2 separate regions of the Homo sapiens genome follow, and region 2 is linked to region 1. The links come from fine-mapping of genetic effects on gene expression. Tissue or cell type: uterus. Region 1 holds a variant in brackets; the other region holds the start of a gene. All regions are shown on one strand. Distances are from middle to middle.

Region 1 (2,678 bases):
GTAGGTACGGGACCCCATCAAGAAGCTCAGTTCGCATCTATCCTATTCCCTACTCCTTCTCAAGTTTTCAGACACAGTCCAGGGTATGAAATGCACCATCGTGGGCTCAGAGCTGGGGGGAGCCCCTCAAGGACCACCTGGTGCAAACCTCTCCAGTTACTGATGAGGAAACTGAGCTCCAGGGGGTCTTTAAGGACCTCATCCAAGGGATCTGGTCAGAGGAGAGCATGGTGCTTTTGTGCACAGCCAGGTCCAGGTCTTCCGGGGCACTTCTAAAAGGAGTTTGGGGAGCAGCGTGTGGTTTTTGGGGAGCCCCCACCCACTCCCCAGTGCCTGTGGCTTTGAAGCTAGGGCTTCCTGCATGGCCCTGTTGGGCCCTGCTGATCCTAGAGGTCTCACGGCTCATGGCCCAGGGTCCCTAAGGTTGTGTCCACCTTCTGGCTTTCTGGCCCCTTAACCTTTGGCAAATACTTGCCGGTCTAACTTGAGTTCCTTGCTAGAGCTTGTTTCTTTCTTCATGTTTGAAAGAACATAAAAGAGAGAGAAGGGACAGTTAGAGCTATTTATGGAGCCGCAGCCCTAGAAAGCTCCTATCTGTTCTTTCTCCAAGCAGGAAAACCAATTGTAGGCCTCTGACCTCCTCCCTCTCCAGCTCCCAGTGGCCTCCGAGAGCCCCTTGAGCTGCAGAGAGATGCGGACTCTGCAGGCCCCTCACTGCCAGCACCTTCATCACCGAGAGCCTCCACCTGGGCTGGTGGTGGGGGTGGAGAGAATCAAGGAGCAGGAAGAGAGGTGAAGCGACACCGCCGAGGAGCCCCCTGCTCTGTTCTTCATCCTAGACACAGGGAGCACCGGCTTCTCCGCAGCCTTGCCTGGCGCTGCCCTGCAGCCACCCACCCCCCTTCTGAAGGATGCAGCCAGCACAGAGAGAGGGAAGCGAGACAGGAAGTGACCTCAATTTCCCCGGCCACAGAAAGGGCGGCTCCCCCTGCCTCTGCAGCTGGGTGTGAGTCCGCGGAGCTGAGAGCCTTGCCCTCTGCTCCATCCTCCTCTTTTGGGGGTCTCCGCGGTGTCAGGACTTGGAGAGCCTGGTCGTGGGACTTGATCAGAGAGGCCTTGAGTGCAGTGGGTGCTTATCTGGTGACTGTGGCCCTGAGGTCTGGGACAGACACTGCCAGTCTTTCTGGGCCACACCCACGGGGACTGCCAGCCCCCCTGGGCTTGGCACAGTGGAGGGGAGCCTCCACCACAGTGGAGGAGAGACACACCCAAGGCCCTGGATGTGCCCGGCTCTCTGCAGCTGTGGGTGCCTCAGGCCGGCCGC[C/A]GATGGGTCTCAGTTTCTGAGGGGGTGGCAGTGAAGTTGCAGAGAAGAAACCTATGAAGGTGCCCTGTCAACTGCCACACGCCGAGATGCACATTGACAGCCCATCACCGCCTCTTGCCTGTCCTCCCCGGGGACCGGCAGATCATGGGAGATGATTTGTCAAGGGGAGACACATTTGGGTGACACCAAGCCGAGCTTCCTGTCTTGAGACGCTTTCTGCTTTCTCATCTTCCTGCTAATGAGTTGCCTTTTGTGTGTGTAAGTTCAGAGGGCCTCTGTCACTGGTGTAACCTCTCCAGAACATTTGAACATGAAACAAACATCATTTCTCTAGATTAAATTAAATTAATTCCCAGCCGCACCTCCTGAGAGGAATCATCCACTGGGTTCCTGGGCGGGGAGGGGTCCTCACTGCATGTGTCAGAGGCGTGTGAACCAGAGCAACTCCATCTTGTATAGGGGCTGGGGAAAATGAGGCTGAGACCTACTGGGCTGCATTCCTAGATGGTTAAGGAAGTCACAGGATGAGATAGGAGGTCGGCACAAGATACAGGTCATAAAGACCTTGCTGATAAAACAGGTTGCAGTAAAGAAACTGGCCAAAACCCACCAAAACCAAGATGGCCATGAGAGTGACCGCTGGTCATCCTCACTGCTACACTCCCACCAGCACCGTGACAGTTTACAAATGCCATAGCAATGTCAGGAAGTTACCCTATATGGTCTAAAAAGGGGAGGCACGAATAATCCACCCCTGGTTTAGCATATCATCAAGAAATAACCATAAAAGTGGGCAACCAGCAGCCCTCAGGGCTGCCCTGTCTGTGGGGTAGCCATTCTTTTCTTCCTTCCTTTCTTTTTTCTTTCTTTCTTTTTTTTTTTTTTTTTTGATAGAGTTTCGCTCTTGTTGCCCAGGCTGGAGTGCAGTGGTGCGATCTCGGCTCACTGCAACCTCCTCCTCCTGGGTTTAAGCGATTCTCCTGCCTCAGCCTCCTGAGTAGCTGGGATTACAGGTGCCCATCACCATGCCTGGCTAATTTTTTGTATTTTTGGTAGAGATGGGGTTTCACCATGTTGGGCAAGCTGGTCTCGAACTCCTGACCTCAGGTGATCCACCCGCTTCAGCCTCCCAAGGTGCTGGGATTCCAGGCGTGAGCCACCGCGCCCGGCCCCTTCACTTCCTTAATAAACTTGCTTTCACTTTACTCTGCGGACTCACCCTGAATTCTTTCTTGCGCGAGATCCTAGAATCCTCTCTTAGGGTGTGGATCCGGACCCCTTTCCGGTAACGCATGGGCTCATGTGGGAGTCCCGAGGCTTTTGGGGGAACAGGAGCACTGCGTCGGCCTTGGCT
Region 2 (2,678 bases), 600 kb before region 1:
AAAAATCACCATATGCAACTACCAAACATACAACTTTTCCTGCCACGATCACCCCCTCCCCAAATCTGGAAATTATGATCAGTATAAAAAATAATGTTCGTATTGTTATATAATTTGAAAGGGTGAAGATTACGTCTACCCAAAATCTCTTCTTGAAACAAACTAGAGTACTAGAAAATTGTTAGCAGTATCAATCACCTCTCAAAATGCCAATTCTGAGCGACAAACGGCAAAACAAAAATACCTCGAACGGCCTTTGATCCAATTTATTTAATTAAAGCAGTAATTAGAAATGTCTGTAAACATTCCATCCACAAACAAGTCAAAAGAAAAAAGGCACAAACCACTGGAAGGTCGAGTCAAATTACAGCAAAAAAAAGGTCTTACTCCCCCCCACTTTGGCTGCCCCCCCTTCGTCTGACTGTTGATGGATTGCTGTAAATATCTGAAAATATTCTTGGTTTTGCATCTTTACAGTTATGTTGACAAAAAGGCGTCTCGAAAAAACAAGAGAGGAACAACAGCTACCACCAGCGAGCATTCTACAAAGCCCCGTCCTCGCGTCCAGTCCTCACAGGCTTCGCAGTGAAATAAAAAGTGCCCCGCACCCAGGCTTTAATTAACGCACGACATCCGCCGACCGGTCCACCCCAAGCACCACATAAACTTTTGGTTTTGCCTCCTTCGGGTCCCTCGGCACAGGGTCCCCCAACCTGCCCGCCTCGCTCCCAGCGCCTCGAGCAGGAACCAACTCGGCTCCCCGACCAGAACAAAATGGAAACAATCGCAAAACGTATCCGATTCCGTTCCAAAGAGACAAAACACCAAATCGCTCGAAAATACCCCTATCCCCTGCCACGTGCCGCCCTCCAAAATGCAAAAGTTTTTTTTGCATTTCAAATGCATCAAGTTTCCGCCTCTCCAAAAAAGGGAAAAAAACGTCCCTCTTTTAAAAATTCTTGCTTTTTTGAAATGGGGAAGAGAGAAACGGGGGAAAAAATATGGTCGGTGACCAGAGAAGAGAGACAAGATGGTGAAGCTTAGCAACAACTGTGGGGAGGCAGCAAAAAGCGAGTTACCCCAGGGTGCGAAGCGGCGGCGATTTCCACCCCTTTCCCGCTCGAAAACTGGGGGCTGGGGCCCGGGGGCGGTAGTTAAGAGGCCCGCGCGGGTCATGGTGAAGGTTTGGGGTCCGGGGAAGGGGCGGCGGGCGGGATTTCACCGAAGAAAGAGGAGCCAGGGGCGCGGGGAGGAGGAGGGAGAGCAGGCTCGGCGCCGCGGCGGTTGCTGCTGTTGGGCTGAGGCGGCGAGAGACGGGGGAGCCGCCGCCGCCAGAGGGAACAGGGAAACTCGCTCCTCACCTCCATTTCTGGGCCAAAAAGTTTGTGGGCTAAGCCGGAGGGGCTATGGGTCCCCTCCCGGCACCGCCAGGGCCCGGCTCGGGGCTGACGGCAAGCGGGGCTCGGTTCCGGGGAAGCGGGCAGACGGGGAAACTTACCCCCCTTCTCCTTCGGCTGGAGCTCGGCGAGCGAGAGGCGGCGCTGGCGTTGGAGAGCGACGGCGGCGCGGCGGCGGCTGCGAACACAATTGAAAGATGGCTGACACCGAGGCTATCCCCCAACACACGCCGCCCCGCCCCCGCGCCGCGCGCCAGCCAATCACACACAATGGAGGGAAGGCTCGGCCCCGCCCCCATAGCTCCTCTCGCGCCCCGCCCCCGCCCTTCCCCCCGCGCGCCCGTTCGCTGGCGCGCGCTCGCCCCTCCCCCGCGCGCCGCCCGCTCCCTCCTCCAGGCCGCCTCGCGCCGTGTGTGTACAAACACAAAAGACACGCTGAGGGGCCGCCGGCTCCCGCCGAGACTGCCGCCCGCACCCGGCCAGCCCCCGCCCCCGGCCCTGCACTCCCATCCCGCTCCGTGTGCGCACGGCGTCGAACCCCCGAAGCCCGGGTTTGGGGCGCCCGGAGGGAAGTGGGGGGAGGGGAAGGCGGGCGGAGGCGCGGCGGGTGAACGCCCGGCCTGCGGGCGTCTCGGGCCGCGGCGGGGAGGGGAGGGAGGGGCTGCCCCCGCGCGGGCCCCGGCGCGCGCCCCCGAGGAGACCCGGGCGGCAGTGGGGGAGGAGGACGCGGTCGGCCGGGTCGCCGCGCCCCATTGGAAAACGCTCCCCAGCAGGAAGCTGGCAAATAGGAATCCAGCGTCCCGCGCCCGCTGTCGGACCTGGCCGCTGCGGCAGCGGGAGGGGCGGACCGACGGCCTCCTTCCCGCCTGCGCGCTCGGCCAAGTGCGGCCGGGTCCTGCGGGACCGGCCCGAGTCCGCCGTAGACAACTTGATCCGCTAAGACTCCTGGGCCGGCCGCCTGCGTGCAGGGCAGCCCCTCGCCGGTGTTGGCCTCCGGGATCAGGGGACGGGGCTCGCTCTCCTCCCGGGCCCGGGCCCCCGACGCAAGATGGCTGTGTCGCGTCGGCCTCTAAACAATGTGTGGAGCGCGCAGCTCCTGCACCAGGGCCTGGTGGCTTGTCCTGCCCGCCCGTGGGGGCCGTGTGATCTGTTTTCGGTAGGATTGCTTTGGAAAGGAATTGCCGAATATAGATAGTCAAATGTCCGCAGCTTCTGCATAGTTTAGAAGAGGCTGAAAACGGCAGAAAGAAGGCAAACGTGGTTTGGGAATTAGTACATATA

The links. PIP is the estimated chance that this variant, and not a neighbour inherited with it, causes the effect.
Region 2: it holds the start of H3-3A, and the variant in region 1 is fine-mapped to the expression of H3-3A in uterus (GTEx, PIP above 0.99).

The regions. Positions count from the first base shown.
Region 1 is chr1:225,466,093-225,468,770 of GRCh38, reverse strand. LINC02765 (long intergenic non-protein coding RNA 2765) reads left to right here and starts at 999. Exons shown (of 3, transcript NR_187303.1): 1 at 999-1,582. RefSeq lists enhancers at 627-906, 1,037-1,296, 1,347-1,646, 2,335-2,678. The variant C/A (reference allele first, on the strand shown) is at 1,325.
Region 2 is chr1:226,061,632-226,064,309 of GRCh38, reverse strand. H3-3A (H3.3 histone A) reads right to left here and starts at 1,594. Exons shown (of 4, transcript NM_002107.7): 1 at 1,499-1,594. H3-3A-DT (H3-3A divergent transcript) reads left to right here and starts at 1,815. Exons shown (of 2, transcript NR_185887.1): 1 at 1,815-2,678. RefSeq lists silencers at 1,186-1,255, 1,874-2,039, 1,626-2,475.